7 linked regions of the Homo sapiens genome follow. The protein of the gene in region 4 purifies or fractionates together with the protein of the main gene of each other region. This does not show direct contact. Each region holds a gene or a part of one and is shown on either strand. Other genes may lie near its edges. The genes, in order: NPC1, SUSD1, CD109, PTPRK, SCARB2, POGLUT1 and MANBA.

Region 1 (3,500 bases), on a different chromosome or scaffold from region 4:
TGATGATGACCGGAAGTCTCTGGCCTTGATTTGGAAGCTTTGGGAGGTGGAAGATGAGTATCCCCATGTATGTTAGGTAAACCCTGAACTTAGGTTTTTCATAAGAACATACATCTGACCAGAGTCATATCAGTGAATCATTTATATCATGCATGTGCTTTGAGACCTATTCGAGGTATCATGGGATGACTCCTCCTAAAAGTTAAGTAGAAATGAATCTTGCAGCTTGATTTACTCACTGACTGGATGCTTTGGCCTACGTAAAATAAGTTGAAGTAGATTCAGTTTTTCTGAAGGCAGTAGCCACCGTTCCTGGGGAGCCTCCAGGGTGCCAGCGTCATGCCAGGCACTCCCTGACATTATTCCATTTCTCATCACGCAGCCTATGAGTAGGTGGTGGTATACCCATTTACAGAAGAGGAGACTGGGGCTCAGAGGTGGTCATTTTGCTCGGGGTTACATGACCAGTAAGTGGCAGGGCTGAGGTTGTTCCCAGGGCCCTTGCCCTTTCCTGCTTCCTATTACACAACAGGACTGAGTAAACCCTGTACCTTTGATTATACATGAAACCAGGTGGAGAAACAGCAGCTATGTACCAAAGAACCCAGAGCAATCGAGAAAAGCCCATCTGGCCAGGCGAAGTGGCTCACACCTGTAATCCCAGTACTTTTGGAGGCCGAGGTGGGCGGATCACCTGAGATCACCTCAGGAGTTCAAGACTAGCCAGGCCAACATGGCAAAACCCTGTCTCTACTAAAAAAATACAAAAGTTAGTTGAGCGTGGTGGCAGGTGCCTGTAATCCCAGCTATTCGGGAGGCTGAGGCAGGGAGAATTGCTTGAACCCGGGAGGTGGAGGTTGCAGTGAGCCGAGATCACGCCACTGCACTCCAGCCTGGGCTACAGAGCAAGACTCTGTCTCAAAATAAAAAAAAAAAGAAGCCAGTCTGGGAGAGAACAAGCTAAACCTTTGGTGTTCCCTTATCTGGGGGCCTTCTTCATCCCTGAAATGTACAGCTGGGTCTGACCTCTGAGTCCAGGGTCAGGTGATTTTGCTTAGCCTCAAGTGCTCAGATTCTGCTGATATTTTGCAAGACCTGGACTCTCTTGACACCCAGGATTCTTTCCTCAGGGGACATGCTGCCTATAGTTCTGCAGTTAACATCCTCCTTGGCCATGGCACCAGGGTCGGAGCCACGTACTTCATGACCTACCACACCGTGCTGCAGACCTCTGCTGACTTTATTGACGCTCTGAAGAAAGCCCGACTTATAGCCAGTAATGTCACCGAAACCATGGGCATTAACGGCAGTGCCTACCGAGTATTTCCTTACAGGTAAAGCCTGCCCTTTTTCAATGGGGTTTACCCAGCAAAGGGCCTACACTGGGTGGGAGTGGGGAGGGTTCCCTTGGCAAGATGCTGATTTTCAGGTTGGGTTCTGGCCCCTGCTCCATTCTGAGCACAGGGCAGTATATCAAAGGAAATGGGTGCTGGGCAAAGGAGTTCAGAATCTAAAGTCTCTGTGAAGGCCTGAGGGCTAGAGACGCAAAACTTGATCTCTGCGCCACTGCACAGCTGCAAGAGACACACACTGGAAAATGGCTTAAGGCAGGGGGCGCTTGGAGAGCAGGCGGCTCAGAGCAGGGCCCGGCCCACATTCTTGGCCAACAATGAACCAGAATCCCTAACTGCTGGTTATTTGGGATGCTGCCTGTATGTAGACTTTTTATATTGTTAGGGGTTTTTTTTCCCAGGAAGAAAAGTATTATGTATGAACTACTGAATTTAGAAACTGTAGAAAGGTAGGAGAAACAAGTGATTTATTTTTCCTGCCTCCCCATGATCTCGCTTAAAGCAGGAAGGCCTGGATTTGTTTGGAAGAAGTTAAGAGCCGGTTAGCTCTGGCAGAAAATAAATGAAAGCATGTTTTCCTCAGGCCTTGCACGGACCCCGCTGAGCCTGAGGTAGTGTCTCAGGATAGATCAGGATTCTTTGTTTTTTTGTGTTTTTTCAGAATGCTGTGGAATGCTCTCTGTAAATGTCTATAAAATAGCATAGATTGGGCTTATAAACAGAAACTTTATCAAAAATATACATTTTGCATCACTGCTGGGCCCTTCTCTGGGTGGTCAGTGGCCATGAGAGGTCAAGTGAGTTGCTTTCGGTGAGTCTTGTAGACAGCCAGCAAGGTTTTCTGCAAGGGATGTTTCCCAAAGGAGTCTGACCACTTGGCAGTGGTGACAGGATGAACACGCAGTGTTCGGGAGTGAGAGCGAGCTTTAATGAGGCCTCCCCTCTCCCCTCCAGTGTGTTTTATGTCTTCTACGAACAGTACCTGACCATCATTGACGACACTATCTTCAACCTCGGTGTGTCCCTGGGCGCGATATTTCTGGTGACCATGGTCCTCCTGGGCTGTGAGCTCTGGTCTGCAGTCATCATGTGTGCCACCATCGCCATGGTCTTGGTCAACATGTTTGGAGTTATGTGGCTCTGGGGCATCAGTCTGAACGCTGTATCCTTGGTCAACCTGGTGATGGTGAGTCCTCATACAGTCTCAGTTTGTCCCTAGCTCCTGTTTCACTTGGGGGAATTGGCTGTCTTAGATTCCATGTAAACCCTAAAGATGGAGTAAGATACCAAGTCTGGCGCTTGCTCTTGGCACACATGGAGAGGCAGGATGAGTGCTGGAGGAGTGCTGGATGGTGGTGGGACAGGGCATAGAGGGAGCGAGCATTGAGTTGGACATCTGGGAGCATAGGCACATTACAGGCAATTTCTGTTCAATTTTTTCTCTTGTCCCATTCCTTGCGGCTATACTAGTATACCTGATGGTGCCTCTGACCATGGAAATGTGATTTCCTGGCCTAGTTCTGGGCTAGTCTGCCTGTAATTTGTTATTCTTTAGAGATTGCACAAGCCTGTAGCCTGATGACAGCAGGATGTTCACTTTTTACTTAGAAAATTGCACCCCGCCCCAGGAGCTCTCCGACCAGTGCCTTTTGCCTCCTATGTGGTTATCAGGTACTTTTAATCATTAAAGATGAGAGCACTTGAGAAGGTATTCATGGAAAATAGAACAGTGTATCCGTACTCTCAGATATGAGCCCTGCTTCAGATAGGGGAGCACTGAGGTCCAAGAAAAGAAGTTGTGACAATGCGCCAGCTCGGTGCGGGTGGGGTGACCTTAACGGGTTCCAGCAATTTCTCCTGGTCAACACAAACGTGCCACAGAAAACCAGGCTTTTGGCTGTGTGTAGAGAGGGCCCCAAAAAGTTCCTGGTACAGTAAGATTGGTGTGATGGAGGCCTTGTAAGTCCAATGGGATGCTTGGCCTCCTCTAGCACCCAGGGTGCCCTGGGTAATTAGCACCCATCCTCAGAACGGGGTGGCTGCCTAGGGTCTTCAACAGGAAGAGAGCCATCCTAAAGGAAGTGCTTTATTTCAGAGCTGTGGCATCTCCGTGGAGTTCTGCAGCCACATAACCAGAGCGTTCACGGT
Region 2 (3,500 bases), on a different chromosome or scaffold from region 4:
TGGATATATTTATAGTGATTGGATTTTTTAGTGATTGGATTTTCTTTTTTTTTTTCTTTGAGACGGGGTCTTGCTCTGTCACCCAGGCTGAGTGCAGTGGCGTGATCTCGGCTCACTGCAAGCTCCGCCTCCTAGGTTCAAGTGATTCTCCTGCCTCAGCCTCCTGAATAGCTGGGACTACAGGCATGTACCACCATGGCTGGCTAATTTTTGTATTTTTACTAGAGATGAGGTTTCACTATGTTGGCCAGGCTGGTCTCGAACTCCTGACCTCAAGTGATCCACATGCTTCGGCTTCCCAAAGTGCTGGGATTACAGGTGTGAGCCACCATGCCCGGTCAGGATATTTTTTAGTGATTGGATATATTTATGTTTTTGGTTCATTTTGTTGGGTGTCAGGGAGCCGGTGATGGTTATCAGCTTTTGTAAAATCCCAGAACACACTGACAAACATTTATTGAGCACTTGCTATGTTTTCAGTGCCTATGATATGAACGATATATGAGAAGAACCCATAAGGCATAAAATAAAATGTATGATACAATTGCAAACAAATGCATCTTTTTACAAGAGTAGCTTGAAAATGTGAAAAAATGGCTGTCACAATATCCTCTCCTTTTTTTTTTCTTTTTTCTGTTTTTATCTCCTTTTCTCTATTTGGATTGGGTCCCAAGACATAGATGAGTGTGAAGTTTCTGGCCTGTGCAGGCATGGAGGGCGATGCGTGAACACTCATGGGAGCTTTGAATGCTACTGTATGGATGGATACTTGCCAAGGAATGGACCTGAACCTTTCCACCCGACCACCGATGCCACATCATGCACAGGTGGGTTTCTGCCAAAAATTGCGGCATCTCAACGTGAAATTCTGTTGATGGTGACTTTCTTCTGCTCCAAGCCTGTGTTGGGGAGGCAGGTGGAGGTGATCTGATCCTTTGCACATTTTGTACAACCTATGACATAAAGCAAATAACAACAATCAAGTTACAGGGGGCCATGTTAAAAAAGCTAAAATTAGGCCAGGAGCAGTAGCTCTGTAATCTCAGCACTTTGGGAGGCCGAGGCTGGTGGATCACTTGAGGTCAGGAGTTCGAGACCAGCCTGGCCAACACGGTGAAACCCTATCTCTACTAAAAATAAAAAAAAATAGCCAGGTGTGGTGGTGGGCACCTGTAATCCCAGCTACTCAGGAGGCTGAGGCATGAGAATTTCTTGAACCCAGGAGACAGAGGTTGCAATGAGCCGAGATCATGCCATTGCACTCCAGCCTGGACAACAGAGTGAGATCTCTGTCTTAAAAAAAAAAAAAAAAAAAAAAAAAAAAAAAAAAAAAAAAGCTAAAATTCATAAACTTAAAGGATTTTTATTAGCAGTTAATAGATATTCCGATATTAACTACTATGTTAGATAGTAAATGCCAATGATTTGGTAAGGTCCCTGCATCTCAAAAGTGACCCTGAAAATAATCAAGGTACATATATCTTAAGGTATTTTGCAATTCAGATTTTTTATTTCACTGGACAAGGCTTCTCTTTAGTTAGTGTAAATTAGTGAGGGTTGATTGCTAAGTTATTTCAGCTTTGTGCATGTATAGATGCTTTACCTATGGAAGGCCAAAAGATTGAATAAAGACAATTGTTGGAAATGTTCCCAGAAGTCATGTGGGAATGAACCAGTGTACTTAAAATATGGCTCGGGGGTGTGTGTGTGTGAGGAATAGGGTAGAGGTGGAGAGAGATTGTGAATTTTGAAGATTTACATTCACGAGGTAATGAATTTGACATTAATTTATTTTCAGAAATAGACTGTGGTACCCCTCCTGAGGTTCCAGATGGCTATATCATAGGAAATTATACGTCTAGTCTGGGCAGCCAGGTTCGTTATGCTTGCAGAGAAGGATTCTTCAGTGTTCCAGAAGATACAGTTTCAAGCTGCACAGGCCTGGGCACATGGGAGTCCCCAAAATTACATTGCCAAGGTGAGTTTTCAAAAAATACAGGTTCCCAATTCATACCACCTTGAAACTGTTTTCATATTTTTCTCTAAATTTCAGTTTCAGGGAATAAATGAGTTAAGTAAACCTTTAAAATTCCTATTTGTTTCTCATAGATTTTCAGGTGATTTTCTTGATTTTTCAGGAATAGTATCATATCATCTGCAAATCATAATTCCATTCATAAATTTTTCTTTCTTTATAATAGTTATGTTTTTCTCTTGATTGATCACTTTGTATTTTTAGAACAAAGACTTAAATGGTAGTGTTGCCTTTGAATATTATTTTTTTATTCCTGACTATTAGGGAAATGGTTTGGGTGTTTCTTCATTCCTGATGTTAGTTTTTTGATGTTAGGTGTATATATATATATATATTCCCAGAAGTCATGTGGGAATGAACATATATATATACATATATATACACACACATATATGTATATATATACATATATATATAAAAACGTCATGTGGGAATAACATATATTATATATAATATACAATATATACAATATATGTAATATATTACATGTAATGTATTATATATTATATATTACATGTAATATATATTATATATAATACATTACATGTAATATATTATATATTTTTTATATATATATATAGTTTTTGAGACAGAATCTCGCTTTGTCACCCAGTCTGCAGTGTAGTGGCACAACCTTGGCTCACTGCAACCTCTGCCTCCTGGGTTCAAGCGATTCTCATGACTCATCCACTCGAGTAGCTGGGATTACAGGCACCCACCACTACACCCGGCTAATTTTTGTGTTTTTAGTAAAGATGGGGTTTCACCGTGTTGGCCAGGCTAGTCTTGAACTCCTGACCTTAAGTTATCTGCCCGTGTTGGCCTCCCACAGTGCTGGGATTACAGGTGTGAGCCACTGCGCCTGGCTGATATTTGGCATATCTAATCATGTCTACTCATATGGCACTGTGTGCCAAGTATTATTTTAAGCACTTTATATATGATGATGGACCACATTGTAGTGGTCCCATAAGATCATAATGAGACTGAAAAATTCCTATTGCCTAGTGACATCGTAGCCATCATAATGTTGTAGTGCATCACACTCACGTGTTTGTGGCATTGCTGGTGTAAACAAACTTACTGCTCTGCCAGCAAGTACATTACTGTATGTATATTACTGTATGTACATTACTATACATAAAAGTGTACAGTAATGTCCTAGGCCTTCACATTCACTCACTATTCACTCACTGACTCACCCAGACCAACTTCCAGTCCTGCAAGCTCCATTCATGGTAAGTGCCCTATTACAGGTGTATCATTTTTTTATCTTTTATTCTGTATTTTTACTGTATCATTTCTATATTTAGATATATAAGTACTTCTTATTGTGTTATAGTTGCCTACAGTAATCAGTATAGTAACATGCTGTGTGAATTTGTAGCCTAGGAGCAATAGGTATACCATACAGCCTAAGTGAGTAGCAGGCTCTACTATCTAGGTTTGTGTAAGTACACTCTGT
Region 3 (3,500 bases), about 54 Mb from region 4:
GCCTACTAGTAGAATAGGAAAATAGTGGGGGTCCTAATAAAGAGAATGACTTTGGTGATCTCATAAAATGCAGCAGGCAGTAAGCAGTAAAGGCATCAATCACCAGGACAGCTCTGGAGCAAACTTAAGCTCGTCAGCATACCTTTCCACGCATACTCATTCTCATCCAGGCATCCATGCCCATTCAACACACTTTTCAGGGTATGGGTGTTCTCAGCACTAAATTAACAGATATTGTAACTGTTCCATGATGTTTTATAAGTAAAAAATCCTTTGCAATCTAAACTTGCTAGAACACATTGTCAAATTTTAAATAATTTTCTTTCCCCTCAGAAATTAACTTTTTCAATGATAAAACATGTATTGACTTATCTTACCAATAGCAAGTACAATACATACATTAAAAAGCATTTTTAGAATTCTCTTAGTTATTCTGAAAGAGTGGGTTAATGTTTTATTCTCAGATTTTGGAACATGGCCACAAATGCAAAGCAAAAGAGTACTCAAATTCAGATTTCACATGTGTTGTAAAGCTGCAACTTGTTAAGTTTCCACACACATATTTGACCCATTAAGACCTACCTTCCTTGAATTTCCCATCTATCATTTATTAAATTAAATACGAAATACCTGATACTTTCTATATCCCAGGAGAGAAGTTACAATATAGGCTGTAAGTGTTACTGGACTTTTATTGCCACCTTGAAGCTCACTATGAATCACTCTTCCTGGATCCCAAAATTCACCGTTGGATTTCTGATGTCCTTTAAGCCAAGTGTATGTTCTGTGTAACACATTCTGATCAATATCTATGTAAGGATCGGCTTCAAGGAAACATCTTAAAACAAAAGCTGACAACCTTTATGAAAAGAGAAAAAAATTACATAAAATACACTTTATAAGGTCCACCAAATAACACCGAGCAAGCAAAACAACAACACTTTTTCCCCCATCAGAAGATTCATCAAAGGGGGAATCACTGAAGATGGAACAAGGAAAGAAAAAAATCAAAAAAGAAAGAGCAAAGGGACAAGGTAAGCAACTCTCTCTAGCAGGCAGAACTGGTTTCCACTTGGGCTTGGCCAAGAAATTCCATGTTGACTCAAAAATCTCAGATTTGAAAAGGAATTTAGAAATGATCTAATCCAGCTCCATTTTTTAATTTAATTTTATTTTATTTTATTTTTATTTATTATACTTTAAGTTCTAGGGTACATGTGCACAACGTGCAGGTTTGTTACATATGTGTACATGTGCCATGTTGGTGTGCTGCACCCATTAACGCGTCATTTACATTAGGTATGTCTCCTAATGCTATCCCTCCCCCATCCCCCCACCCCACAACAGGTCCCGGTGTGTAATGTTCCCCTTCCTGTGTCCAAGTGTTCTCATTGTTCAATTTCCACCTATGAGTGAGAACATGTGGTGTTTGGTTTTTTGTCCTTGCGATAGTTTGCTGAGAATGATGGTTTCCAGCTTCATCCATGTCCCTACAAAGGACATGAACTCATCCTTTTTTATGGCTGCATAGTATTCCATGGTGTATATGTGCCACATTTTCTTAATCCAGTCTATCATTGATGGACATTTGGGCTGGTTCCAAGTCTTTGCTATTGTGAATAGTGCCGCAATAAACATACGTGTGCATGTGTCTTTATAGCAGCATGATTTATAATCCTTTGGGTATATACCCAGTAATGGGATGGCTGGGTGTGGGGAAAAGAAAGAGAGATCAGATTGTTGCTGTGTCTGTGTAGAAAGAAGTAGACATAGGAGACTCCATTTTGTTCTGTACTAAGAAAAATTCTTCTGCCTTGAGATGCTGTTAATCTGTAACCTTACCCCCAACCCCGTGCCCTCTGAAACATGTGCTGTGTCAACTCAGGGTTAAATGGATTAAGGGCTGTGTAAGATGTGCCTTGTTAAACAGATGCTTGAAGGCAGCATGCTCGTTAAGAGTCATCACCACTCCCTAATCTCAAGTACCCAGGGACACAAACACTGCGGAAGGCTGCAGGGACCTCTGCCTAGGAAAGCCAGGTATTGTCCAAGGTTTCTCCCCATGTGATAGTCTGAAATGTGGCCTCGTGGGAAGGGAAAGACCTGACCGTCCCCCAGCCCAACACCCGTAAAGGGTCTGTGCTGAGGAGGATTAGTATAAGCAGAAGGAACACCTCTTTGCAGTTGAGATAAGAGGAAGGCATCTGTCTCCTGCCCGTCCCTGGGCAATGGAATGTCTCGGTATAAAATCCGATTGTATGTTCCATCTACTGAGATAGGGGAAACCTGCCTTAGGGCTGGAGGTGGGACATGCGGGCAGCAATACTGCTCTTTAAGGCATTGAGATGTTTATGTGTATGCATATCTAAAGCACAGCACTTAATTCTTTAACCCTGAGTTGACACAGCACATGTTTCAGAGAGCTCAGGGTTGGGGGTAAGGTTACAGATTAACAGCATCTCAAGGCAGAAGAATTTTTCTTAGTACAGAACAAAATGGAGTCTCCTATGTCTACTTCTTTCTACACAGACACGGTAACAATCTGATCTCTCTTTCTTTTCCCCACAGCTGGGTCAAATGGTATTTCTAGTTCTAGATCCTTGAGGAATCACCACACTGTCTTCCACAATGGTTGAACTAGTTTATGGTCCCACCAACAGTGTAAAAGTATTCCTATCTCTCCACAACTTCTCCAGCACCTGTTGTTTCCTGCCTTTATAATGATCGCCATTCTAACTGGTGTGAGATGGTATCTCATTGTGGTTTTGATTTACATTTCTCTGATGGCCAGTGATGATGAGCATTTTTTAATGTGTCTGTTGAATCCAGCTCCATTATTTTGTAGACTGAGAATCTGACAGTCCAAGAGAGTTAAATAAATTGTCCAAGGTTATTCATCTTTGGACTGTTCTAGATATTTACCAAAGAAGAGCTCCAACACGCTTCAGTCAGCCCCAAAGCTGTGGGTGAAGAATGCATACATAGTTCACAAGCAAACTGTAGTACTTCAGGTGGGGAAAATGATATTTTTCTCTCCTATAGAATGGGAGTTAGCCAACTGCAGCCTGTGGGCCAAATCTGCCTGGCCCAAATCTGGCCCTCAAGCCAAATACAGCCCAGGGCCTGTTTATGTGTGCACCAACCCAGCCCCCACCTGCCAACACCACCACCTAAGAGCGGGTTTTAAAAGAAGGAAAAGAAAAAGACAAAGACAGGAAAGAAAGAGGGAGGAGAGGGAGGAAGAGGGAAGAGCATGCAACGGAGACTCTACGTGGCCCAAAATGCCTGAAATACTTACAATCTGACCCTTTACAGAAAAGTTTGCCAGTCCCTGCTACAAAACACTATACTGAGGTAAAAAGAACATCAAGCAATACAACACTGAAAGCTTTCTATTTATGGTTCTATATCCTGAGTCAGGCCAAGGCCAAGAGAAAATTTGAAGCAGATCTGTTTCATGTTATATAAAGTTTCATGTGGTAAACATTACTGATATTCAA
Region 4 (3,500 bases):
GATTTTTTTTCTGTTCTCACTCTCATCATTTAATATATTTAATATATTTAACTGCATCAAACATTTAACATGTACCAACAAGTTTGTAGAGTACTAAGTAGGGCTTGTAATCTACCAAAAGATGCATGGGCTCTTGCCAATCTGATATGATTTACTCATATATTACATATTCTTCCTGATATTTTTATTTCAAGGTTTAAGGTTTTGATTCATTCTTTCAACACTACTACTTTTGGGGAAGTATTATGCAAAGTTCTACTGATACAGAGTGTAGGAAAAAAAGATTTCCGTGTACTTAAGGAATCTTTATTTTTTTCAGGAAGAAAAGCATTACATGAAAATTGTATAATCCTTTTTGTATAAAAGTGATGCATTTTACAGTGAAAGAGTAAAGAATATAGAGTGTTTAACTGGGTGATCTGACATAACTGTGTGATCAGAGATGACCTCTTTGCGATAGTAGTATTTAAGCCAAAATTTAATGAATCAATAGAAATTAGTTGGGGGTTGATGTAACCCACCATCCTGGTTTGCCCAGGGCAGGAGCTTTCCCAAGACACACAGCCTTCAGTGCTAAGACCAGAGAAGTCCCAGGCCAACCTGGGACAAGTTGGTCATTCTATTTGGGATTGAGAAGACCAAGCAAGGAAGAAGTATTCAAGGCAAAGGGTACATACAGTATATGCAAAGTCCCCAAGGCAAGAAGAGACTTGATATATGGATTAAAAGAAGACAAAGAGAAGGTTGAAGAAGGGGGTGGAGCCAGATCACATAAGTTTTTTTAAGCCATGACAACAATTTGGATTTTATGCTAAGATCATTTGAAAATCATTAAAGCAGGAAATGACAAGATTGTATCTGCAGTTCAAAATAATCATGATGCCTATAGTAAGAATGGACTGGAAGGAGATCAAAGTTTATTCAGGGAGATCAGCTAGGAGGTAATTATCAGAACCTGTGACTAGTAGTGTATTGATGTCAGTGGTGATAAAGAGAAGGCAATGAATCTGAAAGTTATTTAGGAAATGTAATCGTAGTAATGAATTACTGGATACATAGTGCGAGGGAGAAACAGGTATAAAGGATGATTGCCATGTTTCCTGCTGTTGTCACTTAGAATGTTTTTTTACTAGCATGTACATATTGAGGATTTATATCAGCTAGACTCAATCCAGTGTAGATGCCATTTGTATTGTAAATTATATGCACCTTTTACTTTTTAGTAAAAATTGTAGTCCCAGCGTATTTACATAAAAACACTTCCCTCTACAGCCACAGGAAGGTTATCTGATGGTGCAACAGTTTCAGTACCTAGGATGGGCTTCTCATCGAGAAGTGCCTGGATCCAAAAGGTCATTCTTGAAACTGATACTTCAGGTGGAAAAGTGGCAGGAGGAATGCGAGGAAGGGGAAGGCCGGACGATTATCCACTGCCTGTGAGTAGGGCAGCTCAGCCTGTCATTCATGGGGCCTTGGTGCTTATTTTCTCATTTTCAATGTTAAAGACTATCTGGCTTGCATCTTATGGACCTCCCATAGATGTTATTTTTAAACAGTCTTCCTGTCTCATGAGTCTATAATTAACTACTAAGTTTATTTTGTATATTTTCTAAATATTGATTATTATATAGCTATATTATTTAAACTCTTTGGAACACTACTCGTAACAACTTCTGATTTACACAGTTTACAAATATATCAGAATCTCAAAGTCTAGATTGCAGCAATCTATGCCTATAGCATTTTCCTGAGTATAAGCTACTGATCTAATTTCATCCTCAAGTTTTCTCCTCTCTGCCTTGTACACATATAAAGCAAAATTAAGACACAAATGGAAAACAATTAAAACTACAATGTCTTATTTTCCCAAACATATATGATGGTGTGACCTGTGGTCACTTGGTGCTGCTATCTAAAATGCCTTTGCTTTCTTTGCTTTCAGAAATGGTGGCGGGCGAAGTGGCATGTTCTGTGCTATAGGCATCGTTGTTGAAATGGTGAAACGGCAAAATGTTGTCGATGTTTTCCATGCAGTAAAGACACTGAGGAACAGCAAGCCAAACATGGTGGAAGCCCCGGTGAGTCACAGAATCTTAGATTTGGAAGGCATCTTAGAGATTAGTTAGTCATATACCTACTTATTGATTTGACTTCATACACACATAGGGAATCAGATGTGAAAATGAGACGTTGTGGGGACTTTCCTGCCTAATTAATACATTGCTGAGCATCCCCCTCTACCCACAGACACTTAATCACGTATTGCATAAACTGCTAATCATGAAACTATTTTCATTTAATTTGGGAAATTTGTAGGATTTTTTTTCTGTTATAGCCAAAAAATATTTGCTGCAGTAAACTTTGGTAAATGGTCCTATAAGAAGAATAAATCCTATATCAAGGCTGTATGTCTAAGGGATATAGGTTTCATCAGTACCTTAGACACCCAGTATTTTTAAAAGGCAATGAAATTTAGTTTTGTCATTATCTATAATTATTCATTCATTTTCTGATCAAATTGTAAATGGTTAAACTATCATGGTTAAGTTTTCAGCTTTTACCAACTGTAGAGGGCAGTTCATATCATGCTACTTGAGCTTGTCAAGGCTCGTAAAGTCAGAACATAGCTTACAAAATAAGAGCTGATAGGTATGTGTGTGTGTGACAGTTCATCTAGGTGAAGCTGTATGCAGAGTAAGAAAGAAAGTTACACTTATCTAACACATTTTACTTCTAACGAGAGATATCTGTGGGTTACACATATGTATGTGCATGGTGGGATCAGGTTGGGAGCAGCTGTGTAGTGTATGCTCACAGAAAAGTAAACCAGAAAAACCAAGGCATCATTGTTGCTTGCCCTACATTTATCAAGATGATCAGATAACTAGAATGAGCAATTCAATAAACCTTTAAAGTATTTCACCACTTCCTGCTCATGGATTGCTCGCACAAGAGTTGCGTTGCTTCCTGAGACAAAATCTGAAGACTTAGGTTTGTACTGTTTCACTTTTACAAGCGGTACCAGACTTCCACCCTTTCTACAGGTGTCCTCAAACTCCCTACACCACCTCATTTCCCTGGGTTGTTGCAGCTGTCTACACAAGATTACATTGGTTTTGATTGGGGTGCTGGCTATGGAGATGAGAAAGGGGGGATGAATCGGAGGGATTTTTGAGGGAGAACTCTCAGATCGTCTTAGCAACTAAATGAATAGTGGTTATGTCTCTAAACTTTGCGATTTGAAGATTTCTTGATGTAAACTCTGCCTCCATTTTTCAGGTCAAGTCTTAAAATCATCAGTGGGATCATTTCTGACTTCAGAATTCAACTTTTACCTTCAAATTTAACTGATTTCCCACCTTTTTTAATTAAAAAAAAAATCTATGGTTAAACTGTGCCATTCTGGGACCTTCCAAAAAGTTACTATTTTCCTTTACATTCATGTCCCGTGAATCCTGAACACCCCACCCTCTGATTTGTGTTTAATCAGTGTTGATGAT
Region 5 (3,500 bases), on a different chromosome or scaffold from region 4:
TTCAACTTATGATGGGTTTACTGGGACATAACTCCATCATCACCGAGGCGCATTTTTACGTACCAGTTTCAGCCTTCAGCTTGCTTGCAGTCTACCTGAGGCTACATGATAATTTCACAATCTAAATGATGTCACTCAGAAGTTTCTAATTGAATGCTAAAGACATGTACGGACATCCACAGGTGGGTGAGAAAAATCCCTGTGCTGCTATGGTTGGGAAAGGCCTCAGAGGAGGTGTGGGTAGCCCAGCTGGCCAATGCCTTCCTAACCTGTGCTCTTAAATTAGCTCTGTTCAATAGAAATATTACATGAACCACATGTGTAATTTAAGATTTTAAGATTTTCTAGTAGCCACATTTTTTAAAAAGTAGAAGGAAGCAGGTAAAATTAATTTTGATAATATATTTTAATTTTACCCATTATAACTGAAATAGCATCATTTCAATATATAATCAATATAAAAAAAGGTTGGCACTGTTTTTGAAATTCTGTATATATTTTACACTTACAGCAAATCTCAATTCCAGTTAGCCACAGTTTAAGTACTCAGTAGTCACATGTGACTAGTGGCTACCATGTCAGACATAATAACCCTAGCTGGTTTAGGAAGAAGGAAAGATAAGCAAAGGGAAAGAAACAAAAGTCACTGGAATTTATTGAACACCTACTATGTACCAGGCAGGGCTAGGGCTAGGGCTAGTGTGAGGCATTTGATGAACAAAAGATCAGATTCTGTTTTTATTTAAAATTTTGTTCATCATAAATTTTTGGCATAAATTTTGGTTTTAATAAATAGTGCATTAAACTATTTATCTTGATTACTACTTGTTTAGGCACCTCTTACATCACTCACACTGACTCTAGGCCCAGCCCTGGCACCAGGCGCTTTCTAAGAACTTTCTAATGCTTCATTTGGGGGCTCTAACTTGAACCAAACTGTGCTGTATATCAGAAACAGAGACCGGGTGTGGTAGCTCATGCCTGTAATGCCAGCATTTTGGAAGGTCGAGGCAGGAGGATCACTTGAGTCCAGGAGTTCAAGACCAGCCTGGGTAGCATAGTAAGACCTCATCTCTACAAAAAAATAAAACAATTAGCTGGGTGTGGTGGCATGCTTCTGTACTTCTAGCTACTTGGGAGGCTGAGGTGGGAGGATTGTTTGAGCCCAGGAGGCTGAGGCTGCAGTGAGCTGTAGTCATGCCACTGCACTCCAGCCTGGGCAACAGAGCGAGACCCTATCTCAAAAAAAGAAACAGGAGTGAACTCCTGTAATTTACTAAGCCTTGGGCATTATTTTTTAAAATAAAATTTCAATTTAATTCAATGTAGAAACAAGAAGACATTGGTAAACAAATTGAAATTCAAACTAAATCTGTGAACCAAACTGAAAATTTTGAAAATACTTCAGGACCAAACCATAACCCAGGAGAGAGTTCATCGGCTTTGATTCCCGGTCAAGGTGACCCTCAACTATTGCACCTCCCTAATCAGGGAAGAAAAGAAGGAAAACAAAGTTTTTGAGAAGACTCTATCCTAGGCCTCGTTTCCTTCCCACATTATAGCTTCGATCTCCAGCTTTTTAAGGCTTAGTAGCTGCAGTCTCTATATAATGTTATATTGGGAATGTTATATTGAAAATATAACTTGGATGCTGAAAGAAAGGAAAAGTCTTGCTTATTAAAGTGGTGTCTATTTTCAAATAAAACCCTTTTCTTTCTTTTAGGGAACTCAGAAACAAAGCAAATATTCAATTTGGAGATAATGGAACAACAATATCTGCTGTTAGCAACAAGGCCTATGTTTTTGAACGAGACCAATCTGTTGGAGACCCTAAAATTGACTTAATTAGAACATTAAATATTCCTGTATTGGTAAGTAGGCATTTTAATACCATTAAGTTGGATTTTGGAAGAAAGGAAAAAGCTAAGTTAATGCTCTTTATGATTTTACATTTAGGAGCCATTAAGTTATGTTGAAATATACATATATAAAAAGAAAAATACTTCTTTTCTTTTCTTTAAAGTACATCTTGGACTTTTTTCTAAGATGTATCAAATAAGGTCTTTTCAAATGATGACAAAATTCAGATTTTAGGATTTGTTTTCATAATTTCTTCCTGGGTGTTCAGGATTAGCAATTGTGCAAATAAATATGCCCCTAGGATTTTTTGGTAGCTAATAATTTTAAAAATGTTTATTTGCCCCTTGTTTTCATTCAGAAATTCTAGCAATGAAATTTGTATACCATTTCTTACTTCAGATTTTTATGTTGGATTTTATACTCTCAAAATTCATAAATTGACACCAGAAATCAATAGACTGGCAGCCTACTGTGATTTCAGTGGGCTCTGTTTATAATGGTAATTCTACCTAATAACGACACCTATTCTACATCTATTCTATACTGAGACCCATGAGACTTTCTTTTTTTTTAAATTAAATTAATTTATTTATTATTAATTTTTTTTGAGACAGGGTCTTGCTCTGTCGCCCAGGCTGGAGTGCAGTCAGTGGCTCCATCACAGCTCACTGAAGCTTCTACCTCCTGGGCTCCAGGGATCCTCCTGTGTCGGCCAGGGACTCCAGGCGTGAACCACTGTTCCTGGGCTGGCCCAGTAAACATTCTAATTCACCTACACCAACCCCTGCCGACTCTCCCACCCTAACCCCTAGGTGACCGCTCCATATGCAGCTGGACACTGATGATGGACCCAGGACCTAGACAGTATGAGGTCCCTGCCACCTAGTCCCAGGGGTGTAGGTCGGGTTTATAATGAGCCTCTGGCCCTGCTTAGGCGGAAGGTAGCGCCACCTTGTGGCCAAAGATGCCCACATGTTTACAAGAGCTTTTCCCCTTTTGTGGTGTCTGGATAACTCAGAGCCTGCAAATGGTCTCTTTGTAAATATTACACTTACAAAATGCAGTACTGGGAAAGGACAGAGAAGAGGCTTTGTCTTCCATATGCAGCCAGAAAGGAGCTCACTGCCTGATTTTTCAGCTATTTAATCTCAACCTTTACATTTATATTTCCAACCCCCTTTGCTATGGGGTAGTAGGAGAGAGTGGATGGAGGTGCTTTGGAGGGGATGCTGCTGTCTTAATATACCTCTGCTCCGCAGACTGTCATAGAGTGGTCCCAGGTGCACTTCCTCAGGGAGATCATCGAGGCCATGTTGAAAGCCTATCAGCAGAAGCTCTTTGTGACTCACACAGTTGACGAATTGCTCTGGGGCTACAAAGATGAAATCTTGTCCCTTATCCATGTTTTCAGGCCCGATATCTCTCCCTATTTTGGCCTATTCTATGAGGTAAGTAGATTTTTCTTTTCAGAACCTCTTTTTTTAGCTGACAGTGGGTTGGGGCACCCCAAGCCAGATTAACTTTGAGTTTCTTCTAGAAATTGCCTAGAGTTAAGTTATCTTATAGAGTGTGTGAAAAATGGAGTGTTTTTTGGAAAGAAAAAAAACTTGAGGCCGGGTGCGGTGGCTAATGCCTGTAAT
Region 6 (3,500 bases), on a different chromosome or scaffold from region 4:
AAGGTGTTATCCAGTTACTCCACCGTGTAGTTATTAATACCATTTTCCCCCAGGTAAACTAGTAAGCAATTTTTAGGCAGATAGAATGTTTTAAAGTCTAATCTTATATGAATACTTTTTTCTTTTGATACCTTCCCATTTTATTCAATTGAATTTATTCATGGTTATAGAAATACAATTTTGTTTTTTAGAACCCTCTGTTTAGAATCTCTAATGATGTTCATTTGTTACCTTGAAAATTTAATAATCTGCTTGTTTATCCATCTGCACTGATGTCTGCCTGCCACTGTTCATTCTATTTTTCTGATATTTTGGGAGTTTGTGCCCACTGATTTATATTTCACTCTGTAGAAGAATTCATTGTTCTTTACAGATCGAAGATTTCATTTGTTACTGTCAGAGAGGGTTTAAAAAAGAGGGCTGGGGTAGCACCAGGCTGTGGTGGCCACCGTTAGCACTTGCCTGGAGAAACAAGTCCTAACCTAGGTCTTTTGAGGGAGGATGGGTAGGTTAGGAGAATGAAAGAGAGAGAACAGTGATACACAGTTTGGGTTTGTGTATATGAAACACAGCTTCCCCAGGAGCCAAGGAAATAAAGAGAAGTAACTTTGAGTATAAATTGATACATGTTTTGTTAGATAGTTTGACAATATGTATCAAAATTGGAAATGTATACTGTGTATCCTTTGACCTAGCTGTTTCATGTCTAGAATGTATCCTAAGGAATTAATCAGATGAATGTGCAAAGATTTGTGTACAAGGATGTTTACTACCATGTTGTTTCTTAGAGCAGAAAGTTGGAAACTACCTAAAAGTCCATCAATAAAGGATGAAGTGAATCATAACATGACTATAAAATGGAATTTTTGCAGTGAGTCTTTGCCAGAGATTATAAAATGGAATATCGTGCATGAATGGAAAGGCAGTGTAGGTTTTAAAAACTCTGGGTTCAAATCCTGGCTCTTATTAGCTGCATGACTCTGTGCAAGTTGCTTAACCTCTAAAGGACCTCATTTGTAAAATAGGGGTGATAAAACCTACCTCTTAAGATTGTGAGAATGATTTTTTATTTACAAAGCACTTAAAACAATGTCTGTAACATAGTGAAGTGCTATATAGATGTTGGCTGTTATTATTATTTATATTTCCTATTAAGATTGTTACCTAACAGTATGTATGGTGTGACCTCTGTTACATAGAGCAAAGTTTCTCAGTACTAGTGTTGCTGACATTTGGGGCTGGATAATTCTTTGTCCTGGGAGCTGTCCTAACCACTGTAGGATTGTTCAGCAGCATTTCTGATCTTTACCCACTAAATGCCAGTAGCAGTCCCCTAGTAGTAACAATCAAAAATGTCTACAGACATGGCCAAATGTCCCCTGGGTGGGAGGGACGGGCAAAATTACCCCCAGTTGAAAGCTACTAATATGAATAAATGATTGCAAGGAAATTCTCGGCTAAAATGTTACATTGTTACCTCTGGACAGGGAGATTCCAGACGACTTCTTACTTTTATCTTTATGCTTTTTCATGAGAACTTTGCATGAGGAGCATGAAACATTTTCCACTAAAAACAAAACAACAAAAATCCAGTGCTATAGTGTCTCTGCTTGGGCAGGAAGAAGTATGGGGAAAACAAGATAGTTCTGGCCTTAGACTGGAGAATCAGGTAAAGGTGATCCATCCAGAAAAGGCCAGAGGATGAGCCACGTTGGCTGAGGGTGGAGGTCTGAGGGCCTGGAAAATACTGAGCAGCGTTCTCAGCTGAGTGAAAATGAGCAGCATGACATTATATGTATCTGAAAAGGACCTGTGCCTAGAAAGTTTATATCCTAAGTTTCTCCGTTACTGTAATCCAGCCCATCAATCCCTCATTAACTTCAGTTCAGCCTTCCCTTCCTTTTTCAGAGAAGATGCTGTGCAGACTTCTGTGCAGGGAGGGTTCCTACGAAGCAAGTTAAGAATGATGCATCTGTGAGCTAGCAGTTTCAGTAAGGAAGGCTGGTCATGGTAATGTGTACTGAGATCTGACTTTCAAGGACTTCATCTTTATAGAGCACTTAGTCTGGCTTTAAGAATACAAAGGTGCTTTTCAAATATCAAACTAAATCTGATGACACTTCCCACCTATGGAAAACATAAAATCAGAGAGTGATTTCCCTTTCATTCCATTTCTGATGCTTTTTTATTTTTTTGCAGTTCTGTACACATAATTAATTTCATCAGTAGCACCCTACTTAAAGTACAGAGGAAATCCACATTTGCCAAATTATAAACAGACCTAATCATGACCTTCAGGGTTTGGGGGCTTTTCTTTCAATGTTGTTAACTTGTTAATGGGGAGTAGATTTGTAGATACAACTGGGTAGCACCTCCAGAGCAATGAAATGGTAGCAAAAGGAAACAAAGTGTCCTTTAGGGCTTTTTCTTTTGAGTGACTTTGATTAGACTTACTTAGAAATATGAAGCTCTGGCCAGGCACAGTGGCTCACGCCTGTAATCCCAGCACTTTGGGAGGCCGAGGCAGGCGGATCACGAAGTCAGGAGATAGAGACCATCCTGGCTAACACGGTGAAACCCTGTCTCTACTAAAAAATACACAAAATTAGCCGGGCGTGGTGGCGGGCGCCTGTGGTCCCAGCTACTCAGGAGGCTGAGGCAGGAGAATGGCATGAACCCAGGAAGGGGAGCTTGCAGTCAGCCAAGATCGCGCCACTGCACTCCAGCCTGGACGACAGTGCGAGACTCCGTCTCAAAAAAAAAAAAGAAATATGAAGCTCTGAACTAATCTTCAGAAATGGTTAAAGCACATTCTTATATAGTTGAAAAAGATATATTGAAACTAATTAAATTCTATATTCTTAGGTCAGCAGCACAGTGGCCATGGAAAAAGAAAAACTCTACAGCATATTTCCGAGGATCAAGGTGAGTTATTTTCTGACATTTTACAAAGATATTCTTCCAAGTAATGTAAAATGTAAGTAACTTTGAGGGTATGACAAGCTCTGTAGTTCAAAGGGAAAGCTAAGATAACAAAGAAAGAAATGTGGAATCACAATTTTAGATTCGAGAATAATTCACATTATTTGCCGAAATCGCCATTGATTGAGTTGATATTCAAAGAAGTAAAGTTCATCCATTTCAGTCATTTAACAGATATTTTACATAGTGTCACAAATGTGTCGGTCATTGATTATGTGATGCCAAACACAACAGATGGGTGTCTTCTTACAGTCCCTAGGAGTAGCTTATGATCATGCCACGGTACTCTGCTGGTTAATGCAGAGCAGGACTCATCACCATATCTCTTGACTGCCTTTTTTATCACACCCTGTGGCTGCCAAATAGTGGTTAAGAGCACAGACTGAGACTGCTGAAAATGAAGAAGGGAGCAGGGAGGAAAGAGAAGAGAAAAATGGCAAAGGTAGTAGGAGGACCCTGTGTTGTTCAGCTCCATAGTCCCAAGGCCAAGAACAGTTCCTAGCATGTCAATATATGAT
Region 7 (4,284 bases), on a different chromosome or scaffold from region 4:
AGTGTGCCACCTGCCTTACATTATTTATTAATTTGGTATATATGTCTATCTCCTCCATTAGAATGTCCATTAGGGAAAGGACTTTGTTTTCTTTACCACTCGATTTCAAGTACTTAGAATAGTGCCTGCCACATTAGAGGTACAAAATAAATATGAGATAATTAACTAGGTGAATAGATAAATAAATGAATGATATCACCAAGATATGTTTCAAGTTCTTACACAAACACAATATTTGGCCCAGTGTCTACTATAAACGGTAGAATATTTCCTCAAGTCAACACCAAAAAGGGATGTTATAATAAAGCAGGTCGGACAACAGTCTCACATTACTGAATAACGATACTGATCTGATGTTGATGATTGCTTCTTTACTTTTTTTCTTTTTTTTTTTTTTTTGAGAGAGGGTGTCACTCTGTTGCCCAGGTTGGAGTACAGATCACGGCTCACTGCAGCCTCAACCTCCTGGGCTCAAACGATCCTCCCACCTCAGCCTCCCTCGTAGCTAGGACCACAGGTGTACGCCACCACGCCCAGTTAATTTTTTAATTTTTTGTAGAGACAGGGTCTCGCCAGTTGCCCAGACTGGTCTAAACTCCACCTACCTCTGCCTCCCAAGTGCTGGGATTATAGGCATGAGCCACTGTGCCCAGCCTGATGATTATTTTCAACAGGCCTTGTGTTTCCTAAGCCCCAAAAGCCTTCCCATTTCTCATTCCACTGCCATTTGAGACCCATGGCCACCTGATTGAAACCTCAAGGTTTTGCTAAGAATTTATGAAGAGAGTTAAGAAATCTCTTCAAATTGTTCCTATGAGGAAGTTATTTCATACTATGAGCAAATTCATTTTCATTAAGTATCTGTTGTAACCAAACGTTGTTTCTTAGCTTCTTAGCTCTGTAATATGGCACAATAATCTGACTTACTGAAGCCACTCATTATTTCCCATTGGCTTAATTCTTTCTTTCTTTTTTTTTTTTTTTAGAGATAGAATCTCTCTATGTTGGCCATGCTGGTCTTGAACTCTTGGCCTCAAGAAATTTTCCCACCTCGGCCTCATAGACTCTTTCTATGTTGGCCATGCTGGTCTTGAACTCCTGGACTCAAGGGATCCTCCTACCTTGGCCTCCCAAAGCTCTCACGTACCAGCACCCATTGGCTTAATTATTTCAGTAAAATCAGGCAAGGAGGAACCCTACAAAATAAACACAGGCATTCTCAAAGCAGATATAAGTGAAAACTCAGAGTATACTGTGGTCAGCTGTGTTCTCTATCACAAGTAGTTTGTCAACTTAAAATAAAGTACTAAAGTTTGGGAATGATCTACTCTAAAAATACATCGGACAATGGTCAATGTCATTTACAACATTCACCTCCTTTCTGATACACATCTCAGGAAAAAAAAAAAAAAAACTACTAAGTACCAGGTCAGAAATTTGGCACAACCCTAGATGACCACCTTGTCATGCAAATAAACTTAGAATGGTGCTCCTGAAAGTCAGCCACAGTGCTTCAAAAACACATGATTTTTTAAAACACCAAACTAAGCATACCACATAGTATAGAGACCAGGCTATGGAGTTGAGACCACCTGGGTTAGAATTCCATTTCTTTCCATTTAGTTGCTGTCACCTTCCTAATTTCTCTGTGTTCCATAATTCCATATTATCCATAAAATTCAGATATGAACACTTACTATACAGAGTTGTTATGAGGATTGGACAATGTATGCATCCCACAAGTAGATCAATTACAAGTACATTTTGCCCCAAGTAAAGACAACACGTGGGAACGCTGTGCAAGAGGGAACAGCAAAAGCAGTTGGAGGATGGAAGTCAGTTTGCAAACCTATGCGCACAGGCAGCCAAACACGAAAACGTTCCCCACAAGTAGTCTGTAAATTGGAGACTCCATTGGGATACACACACACACACACACACACGCCCTGAGAGGAAATAGCACCTTTCTTCATCACCAAGTTAGCCTTAAAAATTATTTACCCGTTGTTAGCCACACTAGCACTGACAAACCCAACTTTACTCTTGTAGGTCATTCTCCACAACGTCTGTGCTGCGTCAATCCCAAATCTGACTCCCTGACGCTTAACAGCGAAAATAAAAAACCGAGACATTACTCAATAGAGTTAACCCTTACTTAACAAAACGCTGTTGTCCCCTGTGGCGTGCAGACAGTAGAGACAGTAATTCCCGACCTTATGCTTGTCAGTGACGGCATGCCCTTTGTATACACGCTTCAGTAGAGAACGACTGCAGTAAGTAAACTGCTAGTAGCAACACTGTTCCCCTATCTAAACTTCCCCTTTCCAGAGTTACTGATGTCCCAACATGGGTCGGTCGCTCAGTCTCCGTCAAGCCCGTACCCCATAGCTTGGGCATTTCCCCCCGCAGATCACAAGATGCAAAGGGGAAGTTACTACCAAACCGACGAGAATGGCCCAGAGCTGGGGGCTGCCAGGCGGTTCCTGGGCCCCTCTCAGCACCAGAAGAAGGCGGGCGCAGGCTCGCCGCGGGTCGGCCGCACGCCATACCTGGATCAGGCCCTGCTGGAACAAGGCGCTGTGCACGCAGCCAGGGACCGCCCCGGGCAGCTCCAGCGAGCCGTTCCCATTGCAGATGCTCCAGTTGCCACGCAAGCTGTAACTGAGCTCCGCGGCGGTGGTGCCTGCACCGCACAGCGCGAGCAGCAGGAGCAGGTGGAGGCGCATCTTGAGATCCCGCGCCACCGAGATGTGGAGAGATCGAAAGGCAGCGCTGCAAGGGACCGGCGGTGAAGCCACTCACCCCCTCGGAAGTAGCCGAGGCTTTAGGTCCCCGCCCCGGCCCCGCCCCTAGGTCAGCTGAGCGCTCTCCGGGCGCAGCCGCGGGCGGGAGGGGAACGAGGAGGCTGCGCCTGCACCCGCTGAAAGCCGGGCGTCGCGGGTGCGGGAGCTGCAGCCCCCGAGAATAGCTACAGGCTGGGGGGCATTGCGGTCTGAGCCTTCCCTCGGCGCTTCTTCCCGCCGCCTCAGTACATACAACTGGAGGCAAGAATCTTGCACGGTAATTGGGACAGAAAGATCCCTGGGCGCGCAGTGGCACAAAGCCTCGGGAGATCAGAGACCGACTGTACGTGGAGACCATAGCTGGAGAGTCCCCTCACTCCTTCAGAGAACCCAAACTGGGAGACAACCCACCACTTCCCTTCCGCCAAATTTACACAGACCCTCGTCTACCTGGTAGCGTAACACTCACCCCGCTGCAGCTCAACTCGCGGGTCTCAGAGCCTACCCCGCCCTTCAAAGAGTAAACAAGTACTAGCAGTATCTCCATCAGAAGGTTGTTCTGAGGGCTAACCAAGAAAATGCGACTATAGCATGCAGCATGGAGCCTGGCCCAGAGAAGGCATTCACGTTAGCTATTGTTACTAGCGGCCTGCGTCCTTATGTTTCATAAAGCCCCACGGAGGTTTCTGAGGTTCTGGAACCTGCACTAGGCGCGCAGCTGAGTTTAAAATCCTCTGCACTCACTAGCTGTGGGACCTGGGCAAGCCGCAAAATCTCCATCTCCGTTTCTTGAAGTTTTCAAGGTGTTATAAGTATAAAATGAGTAAACATATGTGATCGTCCCTAACAATGCCAGAGTACCCAAGAAATACCACTGACTTATTTCGGGTCTTGTAGTCAAATGGTCTACCTGAGTCCCATTTTTGCAATAGGATGTAACAGTAATCCTAGAAGTTAAGACGGAATTTTACATTGCATAAAATAGACTGCCTTTCTCCTGTGTTGACGCTATCTGCCGTATATTTATGCTTCGGAAGAAGTCCTTGAAAAGAAATTTTCTCTCATCAAATCTGAGCTTTGTTTCGCCTTACAATGGCCTTGGAATTGCCTGATTCTGCAGACACCGGGCAATATCTTACTTTGCAAAGTCAGCATTATTTACAAGCCCTGAATATCTTGGCTTAAAGGACAGTATGGATTATCCAACCCAAGCCGCTGGCTTTACAGATGAGGGAACTGAGTTCAAAGAGATCGGGGCCAGGCGCGGTGGCTCACGTCTGTAATCCCAGCACTTCTGGGAGGCCGAGGCGGGTGGATCACTTGAGGTCAGGAGTTCGAGGCCAGCCTGGCCAACATGGTGAAACCCTGTCTCTATTAAAAATACAAAAATTAGCTGGGCGCGTGGTGGCACGTGCCTGTAGTCGCAGGTGCTCGGGAAACTGAGGCAGGAGAACCGCTTGAACCCAGGAAGCAGAGGTTGCAGTAAGCCGAGATGGCACTA

Evidence for each region.
Region 1: the proteins of PTPRK (region 4) and NPC1 purify together in Homo sapiens (affinity purification with mass spectrometry; 3 studies listed by BioGRID and IntAct, with this or other methods). This does not show direct contact.
Region 2: the proteins of PTPRK (region 4) and SUSD1 purify together in Homo sapiens (affinity purification with mass spectrometry; 3 studies listed by BioGRID and IntAct, with this or other methods). This does not show direct contact.
Region 3: the proteins of PTPRK (region 4) and CD109 purify together in Homo sapiens (affinity purification with mass spectrometry; 3 studies listed by BioGRID and IntAct, with this or other methods). This does not show direct contact.
Region 5: the proteins of PTPRK (region 4) and SCARB2 purify together in Homo sapiens (affinity purification with mass spectrometry; 3 studies listed by BioGRID and IntAct, with this or other methods). This does not show direct contact.
Region 6: the proteins of PTPRK (region 4) and POGLUT1 purify together in Homo sapiens (affinity purification with mass spectrometry; 3 studies listed by BioGRID and IntAct, with this or other methods). This does not show direct contact.
Region 7: the proteins of PTPRK (region 4) and MANBA purify together in Homo sapiens (affinity purification with mass spectrometry; 3 studies listed by BioGRID and IntAct, with this or other methods). This does not show direct contact.

The regions. Positions count from the first base shown.
Region 1 is NC_000018.10:23,534,507-23,538,006, reverse strand, and holds part of NPC1 (NPC intracellular cholesterol transporter 1 precursor), read left to right. Parts: intron 1-1,130; coding exon 1,131-1,334; intron 1,335-2,306; coding exon 2,307-2,538; intron 2,539-3,447; coding exon 3,448-3,500. UniProt on the Homo sapiens protein: Intracellular cholesterol transporter which acts in concert with NPC2 and plays an important role in the egress of cholesterol from the endosomal/lysosomal compartment.
Region 2 is NC_000009.12:112,140,798-112,144,297, reverse strand, and holds part of SUSD1 (sushi domain-containing protein 1 isoform 2 precursor), read left to right. Parts: intron 1-674; coding exon 675-827; intron 828-1,798; coding exon 1,799-1,978; intron 1,979-3,500.
Region 3 is NC_000006.12:73,804,203-73,807,702, reverse strand, and holds part of CD109 (CD109 antigen isoform 1 preproprotein), read right to left. Parts: intron 860-3,500; coding exon 631-859; intron 1-630. UniProt on the Homo sapiens protein: Modulates negatively TGFB1 signaling in keratinocytes.
Region 4 is NC_000006.12:127,971,600-127,975,099, reverse strand, and holds part of PTPRK (receptor-type tyrosine-protein phosphatase kappa isoform b precursor), read left to right. Parts: intron 1-1,272; coding exon 1,273-1,436; intron 1,437-1,942; coding exon 1,943-2,078; intron 2,079-3,500. UniProt on the Homo sapiens protein: Regulation of processes involving cell contact and adhesion such as growth control, tumor invasion, and metastasis. Negative regulator of EGFR signaling pathway. Forms complexes with beta-catenin and gamma-catenin/plakoglobin.
Region 5 is NC_000004.12:76,179,325-76,182,824, reverse strand, and holds part of SCARB2 (lysosome membrane protein 2), read left to right. Parts: intron 1-1,723; coding exon 1,724-1,871; intron 1,872-3,119; coding exon 3,120-3,308; intron 3,309-3,500.
Region 6 is NC_000003.12:119,482,463-119,485,962, forward strand, and holds part of POGLUT1 (protein O-glucosyltransferase 1 precursor), read left to right. Parts: intron 1-2,865; coding exon 2,866-2,925; intron 2,926-3,500. UniProt on the Homo sapiens protein: Dual specificity glycosyltransferase that catalyzes the transfer of glucose and xylose from UDP-glucose and UDP-xylose, respectively, to a serine residue found in the consensus sequence of C-X-S-X-P-C.
Region 7 is NC_000004.12:102,758,169-102,762,452, forward strand, and holds the start of MANBA (beta-mannosidase precursor), read right to left. Parts: upstream 2,801-4,284; 5' UTR 2,727-2,800; coding exon 2,550-2,726; intron 2,285-2,549; exon of another isoform or gene 2,156-2,284; intron 1-2,155.